Homo sapiens: one gene and its partners. The protein of the gene in region 3 purifies or fractionates together with the protein of the main gene of each other region. This does not show direct contact. Each region holds a gene or a part of one and is shown on either strand. Other genes may lie near its edges.

Region 1 (4,214 bases), on a different chromosome or scaffold from region 3:
TAAGGCTGGGAGTTTTTGTGGAAAATGACTCGGAGGTGATGTGCCCTTAACGCATTTTTATCGGGGCACACGGCATCAATATCTCCCCTTGCCAGTAATACTAACTTTGATCTGGTTACGGTGGTGTCTGCTAGGTTTCTTCGCAGTAAAGTCAATCCTCTTAACATGCAGACACTCCTGGAAGGAGAACCAAATCCTTCCTCACTGAAGAGCAGCTACTGTGGAATGAAACTTTGGAGTTAGATCATCGTTGAATCCAGCAAGCTACAGTGCCTGGGAGAAACAGCATTTATAAAGTATCGAGGTTACCGATACTTCCCTGAAGCTACCGGAGATAACGTTATGTGCGTGTTCAGCACAGTAATGTGGCACAGGGTTCACTAAACGGCAGCATGTTTTAACAGAAGTTATTTACTCCTAGAGGACCCAGAAACGTTTGCGGCCTGCCGGAACAGGACAACATAGGGCTCTGGGAAGAGTCCCCCTTTCAGAGGTGAGAACAAGACAGAACACACAGATGTGAAGTGCCTTCTGCTAGGTAACGCGAGGCGGGGCTGAGCTCGGATTCTAAAGACTCCCAGGCCAGCCCTAACCAATTCATCTCCGAGCTTGCACGGCATCTTACCCGGAGACTCGAGGTACCTGACTCCAGCCCCACCCCAGGCCTGCCCGATCCCGAAGCGCATTTTGGCCCTGGGCCTCTCTCTGGCTCAGTCTGGGCGCAAAGCGGGTCTCAGCAACCGTCCCACTTGCCTTCATACCCTCCCACCACGCTCCACTCAGGGACTCCAGAACCAGCTTAGACCTCCATTGAGAGCTGAAAGCCTCTTCCGATACCGAGAACCAGCACTGAAAGCCTCTTCCGATACCGAGAACCAGCATGGTTTTTGTTTTGTTTTGTTTTAGTCAGGGTCTCTTGCTCTGTCGCCCAGGCTGGGGTGCAGTGGCGCAATCTCGGCTCACTGCAGCCTCGAACTCCTGGTCAGGCGATCCTCCTACCTCAGCCTCTGGAGTAACTGGAACTACACGAGCGCGCCACCACGCCCGGCTAATTTTGTTTATTTTTTAGTAGAGAAGGGGTCTCTCCATGTTGCCCAGGCTGGTCTCGAACTCTTGGGCTCAAGCAATCCTTCCGACTCGGCCTCCCAAAGTGCTGGAATTACAGGCGTAAGCCACCGCGTCCAGCCAGAACCAGCATCTTTTCTGCACGGCTGGAGTTGGGAATTTTCCACAGCTTAGCGCACTGCTCCTTAGCTTTTCGCTTTGCCACAGTGGAAAGCAGATTTTCCAAGAATCCTGGCGGAGCCAAGATCGGCTCGCCCGCCCCCGCCTCACGCTGGCTCCTGATAGGCAGCTAGAGCTGTCCGTTTTGACAGAAACCTTTGCGCAGGCGCAGAAAGGCACAGGACTCGCTAAGTGTTCGCTACGCGGGGCTACCGGATCGGTCGGAAATGGTGAGCGTGCGCCGGGGTCTTGTGGCTGGCGGCCGCCCACCACCCCACGCCAGGCCTTCAGTCTTCCGAGGATGAGGGGATCTCAGAGCTCCGGACAGGGAATCGGTGGTGGCTGGGCGTGGCCGGGCCCGGGCCCCAGCCGACTTGAGGGTGGAACCCGGCGGCGGAGGCCTCTAAAGCCTGACCGAGGCGGGGCCGCCGGATCCCGCTGCCCCTTGACCGGAAGCGGGAGCCCAGCCTCGGCCAGGAAGAGATGATGGGCGAGGGGTGGGCGGCGGCCCTGCAGCCTAGAGTTTTGGGGCCTTGGTGCGCGATGGCAACCCTGGCAACGTTTCCCGGGAGCTCAGTTTGTGGCAGGCTCTGCCAAGCACTTTATGTATCTTGTATTTCCTCCGCCTCCTCCCAGCTCTGTGAGGTAGATACAATCTTTAGTCCCATTTTGTTATACATATCTGTTATTCAGCGCCCCGAGAAGCCAAGTGCTTTGCCCCAGGAAATAGTGGAGATGGATTTGAACCCTAGAAGCTTGACGGCCGCCACTCTGTCGGCGTGGTTCTTTCTAGCCGCTGGGACTGGGTGCCAGAGTCAGGAACGGGCGGGGTCTGCTCTTGGGGATCCCAAAGCTTGCTTTCTACCTTGCTTGCTGCAGCTGTGGGTTCTCAACGCCGTTACAGGTTTTGTGTTTGTAATCCTCACAGCTTGGGCAAAATTTGAAAAAGTTTCAAATTTTAAGCCATGTGAATATATTACTTTTTCAAAAATCTTATTTAGAAATCTAGAGCTTGTAATAAAAAAATTGAAAAAAGAAACCGTGTCATCACCTAGAGGCAACCACTTACAGTAGTCATATGACTTCTAGTCTTTTTTGCTTGTTTTTGGTTTATACAGTTTAGCCCCTATTGAATGTGCAATTGTGGGTTCTGTGTTTTTCATTATTACACCACAATATCTCCACATCATTACAAACATGTAATAATGCTTCAAATATGTATAACTTCATTTTTCACATCACTTCTTAAGCTGTAAAAAAAATTGATATATAATAGTTGTACACATTTATGTTGTAGATATACATGTAATATTTTGATACATGCATATGATGTGTAATGATCAAATCAGGCTATATTTATTATAGAATATCCATCACCTTAAACATTCATTATTTCTTTTTTTTTTTTTTTTTTTGAGATGGAGTGTGTCTCTGTCGCTCAGGCTGGAGTGCAGTGGCACCATCTTAGTTCACTGCCACCTCCGCCTCCCAGGTTCAAGTGATTCTCCCGCCTCAGCCTCCCGAGTAGCTGGGACTACAGGCGCCCACCACCACGCCCAGCTAATTTTTTGTATTTTTAGTAGAGACGGGGTTTCACCGTGTTAGTCCGCCTCAACACGGTGGTCTCGATCTCCTGACCTCGTGATCTGCTCGCCTCAGCCTCCCAAAGTGCTGGGATTACAGGCGTGAGCCACCACGCCTGGCCCACATTTTCTTTATCCATTTACCTATTGATGGACGCTAATTCCATAATTTAGCTATTATGAATAGTGCTGCAATATGAACATGAGGATGTAGGGATGCCTTTGATGTACTAATTTCCGTTCCTTTGAATAAATACCCAGTAGTGGTATTGCTGATTTATGGTAGGTTTTTTTTTTCGTTTTTGTTGTTGTTTTTGTTTTGTTTTGTTTTTTCGATGCCTTTGTCGAAAATCAGTTGGCCGTAAATAAGTGGATTTATTTCTGGGTCCTCTATTCTATTCCATTGGTCTGTGTTTTATACCAATACCATGCTCTTTTGGTTACTATACCTTTCTGGTATATTTTGAAATCAGGTAGTGTGATACCTCAAGCTTTGTTCTTTTCGTCCAGGCTTCTTTTGGCTTTTCTGAGTCTTTTGTGGTTCCATACGAATTTTAGGATTGTTTACAGGTAATACTTGCACACAGTAAAAAAATAAATGATGTAAAAGGATCTAAGTGAAAAATAAAATTCCCACTCTCCTAACCCCCAGTCTCAGTCTCTCCTCCTTTAGAAACAACCATTGTTAGTTTCTTTTTTTTTTTTTCTTGCAAACTTGACCCTCCTGGGCTCAAGTGATCCTCCTGCCTTAATTCCCCAAGTATCTGGGACTACTGGTGCACGCCACCACACCCTGCTAATTTTTTTGTATTTTTTTTTTGTAGAGTTGGGGTTTTGCCATGTTGCCCAGGCTGGTCTTGAACTCCTGGGCTCAAGTGATTCACCCACGTTGGCCTCCCAAAGTGTTAGGATTACAGGCGTGAGCCACCACACCCAGCTGTTAGTTTCTTATGCATCTATACAAGCACTTATATGGCCCCCCTTTTTCTTACTTAAACTGTAGCTTTCTAGAACCTGTATTATGCTACTCCGTGGTTATACTCATAAAAGCAATGCAAATTTAGATGCCTAGTTTAACTTTTTTTTTTTTTCTTTTGAAACAGAGTCTTGCCCTTTCGCCCAGGCTGGAGTGCAGTGGTGTGATCTGAGCTCACTGCAACCTCTGCCTCCCGGGTTCGAGTGATTCTCCTGCCTCAGCCTCCGGAGTAGCTGGGACTGCAGGAGCATGCCACCATGCCTGGCTAATTTTTCTATTTTTGGTAGAGACAGGGTTTTTTTTCTATTTTTAGTAGAGACAGGGTTTCACCATGTTGACCAGGCTGGTCTCAAACTCATGACCTCAGGTGATCCGCCCACCTCCGCCTCCAAAAATGCTGGGATTATGGGCGTAAACCACCATGTATGTTA
Region 2 (4,075 bases), on a different chromosome or scaffold from region 3:
TGCTAGCCTTTGCACCTGCACCCTTGTGGGGACCACCAAGGGGCCTCTTCCCGACCAAGGCCTTGTCAGCACCACTCACCCTGACTCCAGTCCCAGCCACCACGCCAGTTGGATTTGCATGTGTAAGACATGCGACAGTCTTCCCACCACTCCTCACAGTCCTCCTGGCACAGCGGCACATTCACAACTCGCTCTCCCTGCCCACTCGGGGCCACCTGGGTGCAGTCATAGCCAGAGATTAGAACATTAATAGCAGAGATGTGAAGACTACTAATAGCTACAGTGGTATTTGTACCAGGTACCATATGTACATCATCTTCCATAAAGCCTCTAAGTGTTATTTTACAAATAATACCAATGAGGCTAAGAGATTTAATAGTTTGTCCTGGGCTATACAGCTGGTAGGGACAGAACATGAGACTGAAGCTCAGGTCTGTCAACTCCACCAAGCCTCCTGTGGTGATAGCCCCTCATCCCACTGTTGTCAGAACAGTCTCCCCCATGTGATTCTCCAGCAGGGGCCTCTGGCTCTGCTCTTGTCCATAGGGAAATAACACCTCCTGTTCCTACTAGCATCCTGGCGGCATCAGCATAAGATCGGGTGAAAGCTCTGGCTGTTAATATAATAACAGGGCATGGCACAGATCTGCTTCCTACCTCCCACCCCAGGCTTCCCACTGGCTGGATCCAGGGCCCCAGGTTTGGGGAGCACTCATAGAAGCAGATAGCCTGGATGAAGTGCTTCCGACAGCCAGGCATCAGCAGTCCACAGTGAAACAGGCTGAAGTTGTAGAGTGGGGATACATCCAGATGGGCTTCCCAGCTTGTCGTGAGGGTGCAGCAGGCATTGTCCTTCCAGGGGATGCACTGAAGGCAGAGGAAGAAACAAAAGGCCCAGGCAAAAGGGGCAAGGATCGGCAAGTGTCTAGGGAAGAAAGGTGGTGAAATGAAAATGTCCCTTAGGAGGCCTGAGCAAGTGGGATGCCTTTAGCTAGTAAGCCCCTACATAAGAGGAACCCTGATAATCTCTCAATATTTACCCAAAGGGCAGAGGCACCTGCACAATGACCCCCTGCCACAGGCTGCTACAGTCCTCTAGAAACACAACTTCTGGGCTCTCAGCTCCTGAGAGGCAGCAGAAGCCTTTTAGGGCAAAGCAGGTAGAAGAGCCCCAGAGAGACCCAGGGGAATCTGGGGTTGCATTGGGTGGGAGGGTCTCATAGGCCAAATGCCAGCTGTGTTCTTCCTCCCATATCCCTGGAAATTGCCTTTAGGAGCTTGGGGAGGGGTCACATAAGTCATATGTTGCCCCAGGACCTGTTGGCAGGAAGGCTTGTTTTCATCTGTGCCGAGTCAACAATGGATCTCTGGGATCACCAGCGGTCCCTGCTTTCCCAGTGGCTAGAGCAGCTCAGAAATGGGAACTTTGAATCGCTTGGCTCTTATGGTCTCAAAAAGGCATAGTCTCTTTCCATCTAGTTGCCTTTGCTTAACTCCTAACCCCAGGAACCAAATGATCAGGGTTGATGAGGTTCGGAGACCATCTTGGCATTTGTGTCCCTTCCCTGATCTTCCCCATCCCATACCCAGGTCTGGCCTCTGTACCTCCTCATAGAGCTTGTCTTCTGGGCTGGGCACTCTCTTGTGGTGTTTGGCATTCATGCAGATGTTGAGCAGCTCGTCCCCAGCCCAGGTGGGCATGACTGTCCACAGCTCTAGCAGGAGCGGCCACCAGCATGCCATGGCCTGCTACAGAGAGACCCATGCTGCACACTTGATGGAAATGACACCCCACTCCACCCCCTTCATCATAGCAGGCACTGGGAAAGGGGGATGGGCTTCAATCTCCCTCAAATAATTGCAACACTCTGGCTGCTCCTAGGACCTTCTTTTGGAGGCAGCATCACAGAATGTCAGGGCAGGTAGAATAATCCTTGGAGGCCTGACACAGTGCTGGAGGCCTTGCTGGCCCTGCAGAGCCAGGGGCATGCCGAGGCATGAGTCAGATAGGAGGAGCCTTCTACATCCAAAGCCTGATCCCCATCACAGGAATGAGGAGGAGGGCCCTTCCTATTTCCAACTCTGTTCTGGGTAGTAGTGGTAATGAGAGGTAGTGGAAAGAGAGACAAAACAAAGCAAAAGGCAGAGGGGCCCCAGGCCTCAAGCACCCAACCTCTTAGGACACAGGGCCCCTCACCTTCATAGCCCAGGAGCCCATGGCTCCCCCAGTCCCCCAAGTCTGGCAGGAGCCTGACCTGGACCCATCATGGTGAAACTGGAAACTTCTAGCCTACCCTGGTCTAAGAGCCTCAAACATCCTGGGGAAGAAGAGCCCAGCCCCCCTCTTCAGAGCCCAACCTCAAGTCCAAATCTAAGGCTGTTCTCTCTCCAGACAACCAGTTTCAAGCTCAGCCATGGCCTTGAATATTTTTAAAGAATCAGATCTGTTAGGTAAAAGGAGGAAAGATGCTGCCCCTTCCAGCACTCTCTTCATACTCACTTTCAAGGCAGGAGCCTTCAGGTGCTCCTGCTCCCTCCTCCCCCTGAGACTATGAGGCTGAGGGGAGTTCCATGTCCCGCCCATTTATTACCCAGTCTGATTTCTACTAGGTCCAGGTGCAGGAGGAGAACTCCACGTGGCTCTCATTAAACAGCATCTGTCTCACCCAGCTCTGCAGGCCTGTGGGTTCCGAGGAAGTTTGCTTCCTCAGAGAAACAGACCCCATCGTAGGCAAGATCCGGGGCTCTACAATAAGTTACCGGGTTCGGCTGTCAGCTCTGCTACTTACTAGCTGGCTGCCCTGGAGAAAATGACTCAAATTCTCTGTCAGTTTCTCTCTCTGTAAAGGAAGTTTTTATTATGGGATTGGAAAAATAAAGAGAAAGTTCATGAACAAAAACCTTGGCATTGTGCCTGGGATAGAGGAAGTCTTAATGGTTTTAAATTTTATTCTTTTATCCTCTCTCCACACGCCCCTCCTATGTTCTGTTCCGTAGCTCTACCTGCCCCTTCACTGTTAGCCAAGCATCAGCTCAGTCACCTGGTGGCTTTTCTGACAGTGTCCTCGCACAGCCCACAGGAACTATGGTCCCTGCTGGAGCACAGACCGAGGACACAGGATGCAGAGATGAAGTGTGGCCTTGGGGACCCAAGAATTTAAACATACAAACAAAGCCAAAGCAAACAAAACAAAGAAAGTCCCTCCATAACCCGCCAAGCAGCCTCCCTTAGCATACAGGAATCGTTGTCCTGTGAAATATTCTACAAGTGTTCTCAGCAGTGATCATATTTGCAAGACTATCCTTTTCAGCTAAGGAGAGATTGGAAACTTGGATAGGATTCTTGGGAGAGTCCCAAAGATGATAAAAATGCTGGAAAAGGAGCATATTTCTTTGTTTTTATAATATGTCCTCTCTTTCTCTCTCTGAAAGAGAAGTAGCTGAAATCACTGAAGTTTTATTGATACAAAGGAAATGAAAACAAAACACTAAAAGCGTTTTTTTAATGGAATAAAATACATTCTGTGGTGTTCAGCTACAACTGATGTGTAAAGCATATACTAATGTTGGAAAATGACATTCTCCACACCTGGGTAATCACAGCCACTGAATGCTGAGCACAAACAAGGAGCCAGGCACTGGCCTGGTACTGTCTACAGGATCTGAGGTCTCAAAAAGACCTCCAATATGAACACCCTCCTTGTTTTAGCTGTGGGGAACTGAGGCTCAGCGGTGAGTAGCAGAGCTGGGATATAATTTCAGGTATTCTCGACTCCCTATCTAATGCTTAAGGACCAGGTGAGGGAGAAACCTCCGGGACTAAAAGAGTAGATACTGCCTGGGTGCCTGGGTCTCAAGTGAGGTCTGCTTTTTTTTTTTTTTTAACGTTAAATGCCATAATGAGGTTGTGCATGTATTGGGAGGCGTGTGTTGGCTTTATTCTAGAACAGTGACAGTTATTAACCCAGTCTCCCATGTCCCCACGTTAAGCAGAGCCTGGAGTCTCCTCCTTAGGGTCAGATACCAAATGGTAATAGCATCTCTATAGCCTGACAGAGGGAGAAGCAGGCTGTCA
Region 3 (3,500 bases):
CTTTCTAGCTTTTCTCATCACCACTGAGGCCCACTTCCAATTCTGCCAGGTCCCCTTTCAGTTGTCTCTCCCTTCTCTAACAGCCAGATAACTCTCTTTGAAAGTGGAGCAGGAACCATGTCTTACCTTTTTTTTTTTTTAACCCCCACAGTGCCTATTTACATTTTCAGCAAATGTTTAATTGATTTTTGAGCATAAAAGATGAAAACAAAGTTATCATAATAAGCCCTTTGACACATTTCCTATAACTGTTAGACAGTGCTAAAAGTCTTGCTTTTAAAAAAATTAGAAATATGTACCTTTGGTGGAAAGAGCTTTTCATACACTTTTTTCCACAACTCCATAGGTGAGTGGGCATGAAGCTTTCCAATGTCATTTTCAGGAACAGGAGGAGATCCTAAAATAGCAAGTTTTACCACAAATGACTGCAATGATTAAAATATTACAAACTCCACCAATAAAAGAAATGACACTAACAAAGGTATACATCTCGGATCACTCATTTTCCCTCTCCTTAATATAGTCACCATAAAAATTTACCCTACCCAGCATAGCAAGGTCACTGGGACAGATTCTAGTACTGAAAGAAGAGGAGGCAAAGAGTAATGGGTAAACTGTAACTCTCATTCTCCACACCCTATACCTATACCTGTATCTATATCCTATTAACCAGTAATTCCAGTTTTTGGTAGTGTTTGCCCTAGAAACACCTGCAAACTGGTACTGTATTAAGGATTTCACACTGCAGTATAATTTGTTATCAGTGAAAAATTGACCTACAACCAAAATATTCATCAGTGGTGAACAGTGCATTAATTACTATGCATAGCCATGCTCTGTAACACTATCCAACAGTTAAAATAAGAAATAGACCCACATACAGCATTAATATGGAAAAACTACTAAGGTATATTGGTATATTGAATTAAAAGGTACTGAATAATAGGGTATATTGAATAAAAAGGGGAAATTCCAAAATGATATAGACTGAACACATAATTACATTAAAGCAAATAGTTTTTTTACACTATATACACATGTGTGTAAAGGCATAGGAAATTGGAAAGAACACAAATTTGCTCCTTGTATGTACTCTTTTACCTTTTTACAAGGAGATATCTTTATGTGTTACTTGTATAATTTAATTTGAAAAATTTAAAACTTTGCTGCCATTTGCAATTTGTAACTGGATATTTCCCATCTTTCTATTTCCAACAACTGTATTGTTCCCCAAAACTGTTTTACTGGTGATCTTCCAGGACATCCTTACCACTTTGGTGCGAAAGCCATTGATACGCTCCACTGATGTTATTCAGCTTTGCCAAGTTTTACTTGTATTCCTTTGTGTGTCTGTGTGTATATTAAGTTCTATACAATTTTATCACCTGCATAGGTTCATGTATTTGCTACCACAGTCGAGACACCAACTTAATTCCACTAGCACAAAGATCCTGTGTTGCCGTTTTATAGACATAACCTCCTCCTTCCCGACCCCTCCCCTGGTCTCCCCATCCATAGTTCTATCCCTGCCCTCTGACCACCACTAATCTGCCTCCATTTCTAAAATGTTTTTCATTTCAAAATTTTTTATAAATAGAATCACACTGTATGTAATCTTTTCTAATTGGCTGCTTTTCACTCAGCATGATTCCCTGGAGATTCATCCAGTCTGTGTGTATCAATTATTTGTTCCTTTGTATGACTGAGTAGTGTTTCCTGGTACAGATGTACCACAGTTGTTTAGTCACTCACCTGCTGAACAACTTCTGGGCTGTTTCTAGGTTTTGACTACTAAACATAAAGCTGCCATGAACATATGCCTAGAGATTTTTTGTGTGAGAGTTAAGTTTTCATTTATCTTGGATAAATGCCCAACAGCACAATTTCTAGGTCATATGGTAGTTGCATGTTTAGTTTCGTAAGAAACTGTTAAACTGTTTTCTAGAGTGGCTGTACCATTTTACACTCCCACCACCAATGTATGAGAGATCTGGTTTCTCTGCATCCTTGCCAGTATTTGGTGGTGTCACTATTTTTTATTTTAGCTATCCTGTTAAATGTATAGTGATATTTCATTGTGGTTTCAATTTGCATTTCCCTAACAACTAATGATATTAAACACCTTTTCATGTGCTGCTTTGCTATGTTTATGTCCTCTCTGAAATGAAATGTCTGCTTATGTCTTTTGCCCACTTTCTAATTGGATTATTTATTTTTCTGTTGAGTTTATATATTCTAAACACTAGTCCTTTGTCATATATGTGGTTTGAAATTCTTTTCTCCCACACTATGGCACGTCTATTCATCTTCACATGGGCTTTCATAGAGCAAAAGTTTTTAATTCCGATGAGATCTAGGCGCCATGATTTTTAAATTCAGCAATTATGAACTCTCTTCTGGCCTCCAACTATTCATAGAAGCAAAAGAATTCCATCAGCATTATCTATCAGTACAACAGTGATTCTCACTGCTACTGGAATTAAGTTGGTGCTAATTATAATCATAAACATCAGTCTCCATGACCATTCACTAAGCAAAATCACCTCCATTCCTTTCATTCCAATTAATCTATAATCTCATTACAAAGATTTCTATATTTGAAGTCAAGTCACCTTTAGCTTGTAAGACTAACAGAGGATGGGAAATACAAAAAAAAAAAAAAAACCCTACTGCCCATTAGAGTTTTAAAAGCAAACTACGCCACCTGCAGAGGATAAAGAAGTGCGAGGCTCAAAGATCTTCACAATGAAAACAGTTTCTGTGGGAAGGTAAGGGCCTTGAGATATAAACTCTTAAACTTCCTTTTGATTCAGAAGCCTATAGAGTCTATGAGTTTAGGAAATACATTCCATTAGATGAGGCATGCTATTTCATAACAAAAAATCAAATCATACCTAATTGTTACAACTGTGTTCTTTTTGGTTTACTCTACCACTTCAGTCTCTCATATACTTGCTAATTGCCTGTAATATGTAGCTTTGAATTTCCTCACTACTCTATGCTCCTAGCTTCTTTAAAGCCAAGGAGCTAAAATTTAAAAGTACCTGGAAATCAGTTGGGGAAAGAAAATACTTGCAATTTGTTTTTCAGTGGAATAGAGATCAGAAATGAAAAATCAGTCTCTTATGTGGTGACATCACTTCCATCACAAACATGTCAATGTGATGCATGTTACATTAATACTGGGCATATAAACAAACACACAGGAAATAACAGCAATGATAATGAAACCAGAAATAGGAGTATGTTGGAGACAAAGTGAACATGGAGTAGGACAAAATCAATAAGCAATTAAAAAAAGATTGAACAATCTTAATAAGTTCACTAACCTATTTGACCGAAAGAATCCAATCCTGCTGTGATAAACAGCGGTTTATTCTGATCCACACATATTGATTTGCTACGTGGAGAAGAGAAAGATTCTAAATTAGTTTAGCAATTAGATTTGCTGCCACGCTCTCCTGTAAATATGACAGCAATATTATCGGCTAGTTTTACAT
Region 4 (3,500 bases), on a different chromosome or scaffold from region 3:
TTTGGTGATAACCCCACACCATGGACTAAGAACATTAATGGAGGTACTATACTTACTCAAGTAGAGGCCAAGACCTCCAAATTCATACTAGTCTTTCAATTCCTGACATTTTCAGACTCTGGGGAGCACAGGAATGCAGTGATTAACAGGCTTAGACTAAACGTTCTGCCTTTAATATGCCATTTTAAACTACCTCTTCAGATCCAGCATGCATTCCTTGTAAGGAAATATCTACCAGAGGCCCCAAGAAGCCCAACAGATGTCATTCTCAGATGCAGGAGAAGCTTTAGAATTACAGAAAGGAGCCCCCAAGCCCCTGCATGAAGAGCTGAGCTCACTGCCCAATAAAGTGGTATCCAAGGAGCCATGTCTCGGTCTCACAAACTACCACCTGCCCACCTGTCAAAGTCAATGCCAGCTAATATAAACAAAGAAGTAAAGGAGGGCCGGGCGTGATGGTTCACACCTGTAATTCCAGCACTTTGGGAGGCTGAGGCGGGAGGATCATGAGGTCAGGAGTTCAAGACCAGCCTGGCCAGTATGGTGAAACCCCGTCTCTACTATAAACACAAAAATTAGTTGGGCATGGTGGTGCTCACCTGTAGTCCCAGGTACTCGGGAGGCTGAGACAGAAGAATCACTTGAACCCAGGAGGCGGAGGTTGCAGTGAGCCAAGATCGTGCCACTGTACTCTGCCCTGGGCGACAGAGCGAGACTCCGTCAAAAAAAAAAAAAGAAAGAAAGAAAGAAAGAAAAGGAAGGGAGGGAGGGAGGGGAAGTAAAGGAAGTTGGTTTTATTTATTTTACTACTGGCTCAATCACCAGAGAAAACTGGATATCAGTAAATCCCTGAAATGCAGTAAAAGTATTATTCTGTTTTAATCATATTCTTGACCATAAGTGGTAATCACAAATGGTCTTATCACATTATCTGTGAACTTGGGGAGTTACAGCCTCTCAAATGCGGTAATTATGTACTCGATTATGCCCTAGAACTGTTAGTGGATTTCTTTTGTACTTTTTCCCTTCTTCTGTATTGTACTTCAAAGCAGCCTTAGACTTAAGCCTGTTTATCAATCTGTTGACAATGCTAATGTAAAAAAGATGCCTGAAAGTATCCTTTCACCAAGAATCCATCCAATTCCACTGTAACCCCAAGTCCTAATAACACACAAGTCACAGGTAGCTGAGAAACAGTCTGACTATGATTCCCACTGCACACAACTGGGCGAGTCACTCAGCCAGATCATGCCACCCTGGGCAAGACTTCCTGCTAAGAGTAAGGAATGCTGATCTGAGTCAGTTCAATTTTCTACCTGTATCAAGGAAAATGGGACCAAGACAAAAATGTTCTTTGCATTAGTAAATTATAGGATGTATATTTAAATGAACTTTTAAAACACAAGATAAAAAACCCTTTAAAATGCCAACAATGGTCTTTGAAGGCCATTATTGTTATTACCATTATTAGACATATAGAGTAACAGTGACATTTTCTAAGTATGCATTATATGTTTAGGCAATGTGCTAAGCACTTTATTCATTATCATATTCAAAATTCATTTATTCATTATGATAAGTGCCATTATAATTTTTCTTAAAGATGTGGAAACTAACGTCCAAAAAAGTTAAATATTTTGCCCACGGTCACAAGCTAATAACAAAGAGTCTGGCCTGGAATCCAAAGTGAAAGCATGGTCTCTTAACACTTACCACAACTGTGGTCAATGTGTCTCACTGGCCTGAAAAGGTTTTTGTAGTTACTTAAGTTAAAGATATGCTTTGTCACCACTTAGTTTAATTAATAAATTAATTAATAATAATTCCTGGCCACAAAAAGCCAGGAACCTTTGACCAATTGTGCAACATACTATGATCACTAACTCCATAAAATTATAATCTTACTAGAGAATGGAGATAGAGAAGCACTGGGTCAAAGAGTTCTTAAAGCAACTGGGGGGAGGGTGAACAGTGTGAAAAGATAAGATGATTCTGAGGCAAGACTGCCTCTAGTTCTGATGATTCCAATGCCCTGCTCTGGAGAAGGCTGGCTTCAGAGAAGGAAGGAATTTACAAGACACTGGAAAAATTTCTCTGATGCTGTAGTCAGGAGCCAAATTAATAAAGGGCAGCACCTGAAAGTTTTATAAAACTCCGCAGTTTGCAAAGAGCTTCCACATACATCACATCTCATTTCATTCGCACAGTTCCACAAGGTTCATACATAGGGCAGGTGCGGAGACAGGTTTATGACTTGCCCAAAATCACTTAGGCAGTTAATCCTGAGTGGGGCTGGGACTAGAATGCAGGTCTTAGCTTAGTCTAGGGTTCTTTCCAATAAACTGTGCTGCCTCTAAACAAACTAAGGAATTCCTTGATAGCTGAACACTCATCAAAAACCATGAAAAGAGATCTATTCCCCCTCCAAACAGCATGGAAAAGAAAGAAAAGAAAAAGAAAAAGAGAAAAGAGAAAAGAACCCTCTTTACAAAGTACTGTGAAATCACAATTAGCAAGGGAAAGTTATTAGCAACCATCCACCTTATTATCCATCCAAAATTAGCTTCAATTCAGGAAAAGAACTGGCTCTCAGCAGCAGCAGCAGGAGGTTCAGAGCCTGACTCACTGCCCTGCCTTTCATTACTAAGGGCTTTCAAACAAATATGTACCTTCAACAAGAAAGCACACACTGCCTAAAGTTGGGAGGCCAACAGAAGCATCTGTTTGCTCTCTAGGTCAAGGGTCATCCAATATTTTGGAAAAACCCTAAATTTTGTAAGACAACCTCCTACCCCACCCTCTTCCCCACCATCGTCTCCACCCACTATCTTAAGTGACTGGGCCCAGATCTGCAAGAGTTTTGGGAAAGTATTAATATCAGTGCATTCAGAGCAACAGTGATAAAGAGGGAAACTGAACAGTGGTTACTGGCTTTGAGGGAGGAAGAGACTAGAAGCTGATGCTGGAGGGGGTAGCAGGCAGAGCATTAAAAATGGAGGCAGCAAACCCAAGAGAAGCGTAATGTAAAATTGCATAACTGGGGATGGGGGATGGGAGGCAAAGATGACAGCTGGGACTAGCAGCCGGAGAAAAGGAGGAGCTTGCTGGCAGGAAAAACTGGATGTGTGGATATGTAGCAGAGGGTGAGAAGAAAAAGGAAACACAGAAGAGCAAGTTGAGCCCAATCCCAGGAAAACTGCTTTCATATATGCCCTAAGGAAGTAAAAAAAGCTAGCCTAGCCCTATATAGGAGAGACTATCATGATTTTTCACATTTACCTCCAGGGCAACCCACAGAACAAGAAATCAGACTAACTTTCTCTCTCCCTCAACTGACTACTGCCAAGGCCAGGCCTTTAAGTCTTGCCTGCTTTTGTCACCTCTTTTAAAAACAGCTGTTCCCTTCAAACCCCCTCTACCTCTAATTCCCTGTGGCTGGCTCATGCTGTTCTCTCCTTCGTTCCTCGCAATAAAGAGAAAATGACAGCCAAGATCATAAG
Region 5 (3,500 bases), on a different chromosome or scaffold from region 3:
AACTCTCTCTTCTGCTGTGCAGGAAGAGTATTGGCCGCTTAGCTTCAGGTACTGAGCTGAATTGAGGTTGGGTTACAGTTTTATCTTTTTAAAAAATTTTCTTTTCTTGTGCCAACTCATCTGAGAGTTGTGGTTTTAAAAAGGCCCTATCTTAAATTCATCCCTTTTTTTTTTCTTTTTTGAGACAGAGTCTCAACTCTGTTGCCCAGGCTGGAGTGCAGTGGTGCGATCTCAGCTCACTGCAACCTCTGGCTCCTGGGCTCAAGTGATCCTCCTGCTTCAGCCTCCCAAGTAGCTGGGACCGTAGGCATGAGCCACCACGCCCAACTAATTTTTGTATGTTTTTGTTGAGATGGGGTTTCACCATGTTGCCCAGGCTGGTCTTGAAGTCCTTGGCTCAAGTGATTCTCCTGCCTTGGCCTCCCCAAGTGCCCAAGTGCTAGGATTATAGGTGTGAGCCACCACACCCAGCCTCACCCTTGTTTCTATTTTTTTTTTTTTTTTTTTTTTGGAGACAGAGTTTCATTCTTGTTGCCCAGGCTGGAGTGCAATGGCATGATCTTGGCTCACCACAACCTCAGCCTCCCGGGTTCAAGTGATTCTCCTGCCTCAGCCTCCTGAGTAACCGGGATTAGAGACGCACGCCACCACGCCCGGCTAATTTCTGTATTTCAGTAGAGATGGGGTTTCACCATGTTGGCCAGGCTGGTCTCAAACTCCTGACCTCAGGTGATCCACCCACTTTGGCCTCCCAAACTGCTGGGATTATGGGCGTGAGCCACTGTGCCTGGCCCCCTTGTTTCTTAATTGTAGCCCTCCAAGTCTTTCAACCAAGAACCTCGAATGTTCATTAGGCCTCTGCAGGCCTCTACCTCCAACAGGTGCTGACTTTCAGATCTTGTCTCCTCAGCATAAAACTTTGCTCTTCATGTCAGAGGCTTTTTCCTTAGTGTACTAGTTTCCTGTTGCTGCCGTAACAAATTATCACAAACTCAGTGCTGAAAATGGCACAAATATATTACTTTACAGTTCTGGAGATCAGAAATCCAAAATGGGTTTCATTGAACTAAAATGAAGATGTCAGCAGGGCTGCATTCCTTCTGGAGGCTCTAAGACTGAATCCATTTCCTCGTCTGTTCCAGTTAGAGGCCCCTGAACTCCTTAGCCCATAAGCCGTTTCCTCCAATTTCAAAGCCAGCAGCACAGCATCTTCAACTCTCTGACTCTGACCCACCTACTCCCTCTTTCTTTTGTAAGGACCCTTGTGATTTAGTCATACTAGTTACTTTATTTTATTTTATTCTATTTTTGAGAAAGAGTCTCACTCTGTTGCCCAGGCTGGAGTGCAGTGGTGCCATCTCGGCTCACTGCAAGCTCCGCCTCCTGGGTTCACGCCATTCTCCTGCCTCAGCCTCCCGAGTAGCTGGGACTACAGGCGCCCGCCACCACACCCGGCTAATTTTTTGTATTTTTAGTAGAGACGGGGTTTCACCACGTTAGCCAGGATGGTCTCGATCTCCTGACCTCGTGATCCGCCTGCCTCAGCCTCCCAAAGTGCTGGGATTACAGGCGCGAGCCACTGTGCCCGGCCTGAATTCAGCATGTCTTGAAAAGAAAACCTACCATGTGATACGCTCAGTTCTACTTTCTCCTTTTTTATGGGATCTTCCCTCCAGAATCTGATTTTACCTCCTTAGCTTTGTTAAGACTGCCGACTCTGCTGGGCACAGTGGCTCACTCCTGTAATCCTACCACTTTCGAAGGCCAAGGCGGGCAGATTGCCTGAGCTCAGGAGTTGGAGACCAACCTGGGCAATATGGTGAAACCCCGTCTCTACCAAAAATACAAAAAATTAGGGCCAAGCACAGTGGCTCATGCCTGTAATCCCAGCACTTTGGGAGGCCGAGGCCGGTGGATCACTTGAGGTCAAGAATTCGAGACCAGCCTGCCCAACATGGTGAAACCCCGTCTCTACTAAAAATACAAAAATTAGCCGGGCGTGGTGGTGGGTGCCTGTAGTCCCAGCTACTTGGGAGGCTGAGGTAGGATAATTGCTTCAACCCGGGAGGTTGTGGTTGCAGTGAGCCAAGATTGTGCCACTGCACTCCAGCCTGGGCAACAGAGTGAAACTCCATCTCAAAAAAAAAAAAGAAAAAAAAAAATTAGCCAGGCATGGTGGTGCATGCCTGTTATCCCAGCTACTCGGGAGGCTGAGACATGAGAAGTGCTTGGCCTGGGGAGGCAGAGGTTGCAGTGAGCTGAGATCGTGCCACTGCACTCCAGCCTGGGTGACAGAGCAAGACTCTGTCTCAAAGTAAAATTAATAAATAAAAAAATTTTAAAAAGTAAAGACTGCCAACTCTCCTACTAGTTAAATTTTCCCTCAGTAATTTGTTCTTTACCTGAGCAAGGCCCAGATTCTCAGCATCTAGCCCTGTGCCCTGAATTGGCAAATCCTCCAGGAAAAAAATCTGCTGCGGAATATCAGCTTACCTCCTAGAGTTCACCTCTTTCTGGAATTTTGGCTCCTCTAGGCCTGTTTGCTTTGGCAGCTCCCTGATTCATTTTATCCAGCTTTTCTTACTGTTCTTGGTGGGAGCATTATTAGCCTGCTACAAACTGTACCATTACACTTTTTCCAAGTCACACCTGTAATCCCAGCACTTTGGGAGGCTGAGGTGGGCCGATTGCTTGAGCTCAGGAGTTTGAGACCAGCCTGGCCCACATGGTGAAACCCTGTCTCTACAAAAAATATAAAAATTAGCCAGGCGTGGTAATGCACGTGTGTAGTCCCAGCTACTCGGAAGGCTGAGGCAGGAGAATCATTGAACCCGGGAGGTGGAGGTTGTAGTGAGCTGAGATTGTGCCACTGCACTCTAGCCTGGTTGACAGAGTGAGACTCCCTCTCAAAAAATAAAAATAAAATATAAATAAATAAAACAATTGGGGTCTCACTATTTTATATTTTTGTCTCAAAAAACAAACAACTCTCTCTTGTGGTGTGTGCTTGATTCTGCTTCTTGTCATGTCTTCTCACAAGTCTTTTAAGAGTAAGCGATTCCTGGCCAAGAAACAAAAGCCAAATCGTCCCATTCTCCAGTGGATCTGGTTGAAAACTGGTAATAAAATCAGGCACAACTGGAAAGGAGACATTGCAGAACAGCCAAGCTGGGTCTATAAGGAACTGCACGTGAGCTGGCACACATATTCACGCTGTATCAAGGTCACGGCCATCTTACTATAGCAAGCTGAAAACGTCACCACTGTCTGAACAGTTGGACGTGTTTTATTGGGAATATATTTTTTCTCTTTGCTTATATGCCCTGCGATAGTAGGCTGGGTTCAGTAATAAATATGTGAGACCTTTTGTTTCAGGAAAAAAAAGAACCAATATAATATAAGGTATATGTGTATGTTTCTCTGTGGGTATGGGTTGTGAACTGCCTGGGTGCAAAGCCAAGCTTTGTTACCTAGTTGTATGACCTTGTACACTTAATTTC
Region 6 (3,500 bases), on a different chromosome or scaffold from region 3:
TACCACATCCCACCCAAGAGTTCCATCCCTCACTACAGTGCCACAGACACAAGGCCAGACCACAGGTGGGCTCTCAGGATGGATAGACTCCAAGGACATGGAAGTCCAGTGCTCTTCAACTCACTTGTTTCTTTTCTTTCAATTTTATTTTATTTTTTTTGAGACAGAGTCTCGCTCTATCGCCCAGGCTGGAGTGCAGTGGCTCAATCTCACTCACTGCAACCTCCTCCTCCCAGGTTCAAACGATTCTCCTACCTCAGCCTCCCGAGTAGCTGGGATTACAGGTGCCCACACCATGCCCAGCTAATTTTTGTATTTTTTTCAGTAGAGATGGGGTTTCGCCATGTTGGCCAGGCTGGTCTTGAACTCCTGACCTCAGGTGATCCACCCGCCTCTGCCTTCCAAAGTGCTGGGATTATAGGTGTGAGGCACCGCACCCAGCCTATTTTGAATAGGTAATAACATTTCATTTGGTTCAAAATTCCAAAGGCACAAAGGTTGTTGTATAGTGAAGTTTGCTTCCTATTTCTGTCCTCCAGCCACCCAATTCTGCTACCCAGGGCAACTGTGTGTTCTTCCAGGGAAATTCTATTGGTATTCAAGCAAGTAAGACTATACTCCCCCACCTTTTTTACATAAATGGTGGCATACTTTAGACATGGTCCTGCTTTTACTTATCTTAATCCAAATTGCTTTTTGGCATATGGAGTACAGTTGGCCCTCTGTATCCGTGGGTTCTGCTTCTGCAGATTCAACCAACCATCGGTTGAAAATATTCAAGGAGAGTGGGCACAGTGGCTCATGCCTGTAATCCCAGCACTTTGGGGGGCCAAGGTGTGTAGATTACCTGAGGTCCGGAGTTCCAGACCAGCCTGGCCAATATGGTTGAAACCCTGTCTCTACTAAAAATATAAAATTAGCCAGACGTGATGGCCCGTGCCTGTAATCCCAGCTACTCTGGAGGCTGAGGCAGGAGAATTGCTTAGAACCCAGGAGGTGGAGGTTGCAGTGAGCCGAGATTGTGCCAGCCTGGCGACAGAGCGAGACTCGGTCTCAAAAAAAAAAATGAGAAAATATTCATGGAAAATAAAAAATAAAACCAAAAAATACAGTATAACAGTTATGGTCATGTGTCACTTGGCAATGCAGATACATTATCAGAAATGCATTATTGTGGAAACATCATAGAATGTACTTACTGAAACCTAGATGATCTAGCCTGCTACACACCTAGGCTATCTGCGATAGCCTATTGTTCTTGGGCAACAAGCCTGTGTGGCGTGTTACTATACTGAAGCATGGTAGGTAACATAACACAGTGGTAACCATTTGTGTATATAAACATACCTAAACATAGAAAAGGTACAGTTAAAATATAATATAAATGATAAAAAATGGCACACCTGTACAGGGTACTAACCATTAAATGGAGCATGTTTGAATGGAAGTTGCTCTGGGTGAGTTAGTGAGTGAGTGGTGAGTGAATGTGAAGGCCTAGGGCCTTACTGTACACTGCTGTAGACTTTAGAAACATGGTACAGTTAGGCTACATCAAATTTATAAAAAATAGTTCTTTTATAATAAATTAACCTTAGTTTACTATAACTATTTTACTTTATAAACTTAACATTTTTTTTCCCACTTGCCAAGGCTGATGTAACATTTTAATCTTTTTTTAACTTTTTTTTTTCGACCAGTTGTCAAATGATCCTTTATTGAAATATTTTCCTTTGTGCTTAACTAGCTGGGCATTCCACAGCACCACTGTTGATGTCATCTATGATGTCATGAGGGTGGTGGCCATCAACATTACAGCCCATAGACTGGGCAGTCCCCGGAATCTCTTTAATGGTTCCAGAGAGTTCTCTGGCTAAGGATCGGTGCCGCATCTGTCGAGCAATGTTGACGATCTCATCAAAAGTGATATTCCCATTGTGTTTAATGTTTTTCTGTTTCTTTCTGTCTCTTGGTGGTTTCTTGAGGGCTTTGATGATCGGGGCAGAGGCAGAAGGCACCACCTCAATCTGGGCCTGTCTGTTCTCAATGGTCAGTTTCACTGTAATCCTCAGGCCCTTCCAGTCACCCGTTGCCTTGGCAATGTCATCACCAACCTTTTTTGGAGACAGACCCAGGGGGCCGATCTTGGGGGCCAGGGCAGAAGTGGCACCGACTTCACCTCTGGTGCACCTCAGGTATACGACCTTGATCTCGTTGGGGTCGAACTTCGGTGGCATGGTGGAGGCAGCTGGTGTCGGATGAACCCAGATTCAGGATGACCGAAGAAAGTTGCACCTTGGCCTCCTCCGAGCCGAAAGCCGAGAGCTTCTCTCTCTTTTTTTTTTGAGATGGAGTCTCGCTCTGTCGCCCAGGCTGGAGTGCAGTGGCACAATCTCGGCTCACTGCAAGCTCCGCCTCCCGGGTTCCCGCCATTTTCCTGCCTCAGCCTTCCGCGTAGCTGGGACTACAGGCGCCCTCCACCACACTTGGCTAATTTTGTTTTTTTGTATTTTTAATAGAGACAGGGTTTCACCATGTTAGCCAGGATGGTCTCGATCTCCTGACCTCGTGATCTGCCTGCCTCAGCTTCCCAAAGTGTTGGGATTACAGGCGTGAGCCACTGCGCCCGGCTAACTTTTTGACTCTTGTAATAACAACTGAAAACACAAACATTGTATAGCTTTACAGAAATATTTTATTCCTTTATATCCTTATTCCTCATGCTTTTTTTCTATCTAAATTTTGTTTTGGGCGGGGAGCATATATTCAGGGCAATATGAATCTCTGTCTCCTGGCTTGAAAATAAAATTTTTGTTTTTTGTTTTTTGTTTTTGAGACAGAGTCTCGCTCTTTCGCCCAGGCTGGAGTGCAATGGCGTGATCTCGGCTCAGTGTAACCTCCGCCTCCTGGGTTCAAGTGATTCTCCTGCCTCAGCCTCCCGAGTAGCTGGGACTATAGGTGTGTGCCATCATACCCAGCTAATTTTTTGTATTTTTAGTAGAGATGGGGTTTCACCGTATTAGTCAGGATGGTCTCGATCTCCTGACCTCGTGATCCGCCCGCCTCAGCCTCCCAAAGTGCTGGGATTACAGACATGAGTTACTGCGCCCCGCCTGAAATTCTTTTTTTAATTTAAAATTTTATTTATTTGTATTTTTTCCAAGAAATAAGCTTAAATTTGAAAAATTTTAAATATTATTTTGCTTTTCAAACTTTTTGTTAAAAACGAAGAAATATACACATTAGCCTAGGCCTACATAGGGTCAGGATCATCAACATCACTGGCTTTCACCTCCACATCTTGTCTCACTGGAAGATCTTCAGGGGCAGTAACACACATGGAGATGTGACTTCCTGTGATAACAATGCTTTCTTCTGGATTGCCTTTTTTTTTTTTTTTGAGACGGAGTCTCGCACTGTCGCCCAGGCTAGAGTGCAGTGGCATGATCTCGGCTCACTGCAAGCTCCGTCTCCTGGGTTCACACCATTCTCCTGCCTCAGCC

What was found.
Region 1: the proteins of DYNC2LI1 (region 3) and DYNLRB1 purify together in Homo sapiens (affinity purification with mass spectrometry; one large-scale study listed by BioGRID and IntAct). This does not show direct contact.
Region 2: the proteins of DYNC2LI1 (region 3) and IZUMO1R purify together in Homo sapiens (co-immunoprecipitation; one large-scale study listed by IntAct). This does not show direct contact.
Region 4: the proteins of DYNC2LI1 (region 3) and NPTN purify together in Homo sapiens (affinity purification with mass spectrometry; one large-scale study listed by BioGRID and IntAct). This does not show direct contact.
Region 5: the proteins of DYNC2LI1 (region 3) and DYNLT2B purify together in Homo sapiens (affinity purification with mass spectrometry; one large-scale study listed by BioGRID and IntAct). This does not show direct contact.
Region 6: the proteins of DYNC2LI1 (region 3) and KIFC1 purify together in Homo sapiens (affinity purification with mass spectrometry; one large-scale study listed by BioGRID and IntAct). This does not show direct contact.

The regions. Positions count from the first base shown.
Region 1 is NC_000020.11:34,515,008-34,519,221, forward strand, and holds the start of DYNLRB1 (dynein light chain roadblock-type 1), read left to right. Parts: upstream 1-1,414; 5' UTR 1,415-1,451; coding exon 1,452-1,454; intron 1,455-4,214. UniProt on the Homo sapiens protein: Acts as one of several non-catalytic accessory components of the cytoplasmic dynein 1 complex that are thought to be involved in linking dynein to cargos and to adapter proteins that regulate dynein function.
Region 2 is NC_000011.10:94,303,305-94,307,379, reverse strand, and holds the start of IZUMO1R (sperm-egg fusion protein Juno precursor), read right to left. Parts: upstream 2,801-4,075; 5' UTR 2,501-2,800; intron 1,760-2,500; exon of another isoform or gene 1,750-1,759; 5' UTR 1,744-1,749; coding exon 1,606-1,743; intron 868-1,605; coding exon 658-867; intron 216-657; coding exon 80-215; intron 1-79. UniProt on the Homo sapiens protein: Receptor for IZUMO1 present at the cell surface of oocytes (oolemma), which is essential for species-specific gamete recognition and fertilization.
Region 3 is NC_000002.12:43,801,539-43,805,038, reverse strand, and holds part of DYNC2LI1 (cytoplasmic dynein 2 light intermediate chain 1), read right to left. Parts: intron 3,401-3,500; coding exon 3,330-3,400; intron 398-3,329; coding exon 300-397; intron 1-299. UniProt on the Homo sapiens protein: Acts as one of several non-catalytic accessory components of the cytoplasmic dynein 2 complex (dynein-2 complex), a motor protein complex that drives the movement of cargos along microtubules within cilia and flagella in concert with the intraflagellar transport (IFT) system, facilitating the assembly of these organelles.
Region 4 is NC_000015.10:73,598,890-73,602,389, forward strand, and holds part of NPTN (neuroplastin isoform b precursor), read right to left. Parts: intron 1-3,500. UniProt on the Homo sapiens protein: Probable homophilic and heterophilic cell adhesion molecule involved in long term potentiation at hippocampal excitatory synapses through activation of p38MAPK. May also regulate neurite outgrowth by activating the FGFR1 signaling pathway.
Region 5 is NC_000003.12:196,297,741-196,301,240, reverse strand, and holds part of DYNLT2B (dynein light chain Tctex-type protein 2B), read left to right. Parts: intron 1-3,500. UniProt on the Homo sapiens protein: Acts as one of several non-catalytic accessory components of the cytoplasmic dynein 2 complex (dynein-2 complex), a motor protein complex that drives the movement of cargos along microtubules within cilia and flagella in concert with the intraflagellar transport (IFT) system.
Region 6 is NC_000006.12:33,398,323-33,401,822, forward strand, and holds part of KIFC1 (kinesin-like protein KIFC1), read left to right. Parts: coding exon 1-65; intron 66-1,689; exon of another isoform or gene 1,690-2,322; intron 2,323-3,500. UniProt on the Homo sapiens protein: Minus end-directed microtubule-dependent motor required for bipolar spindle formation. May contribute to movement of early endocytic vesicles. Regulates cilium formation and structure.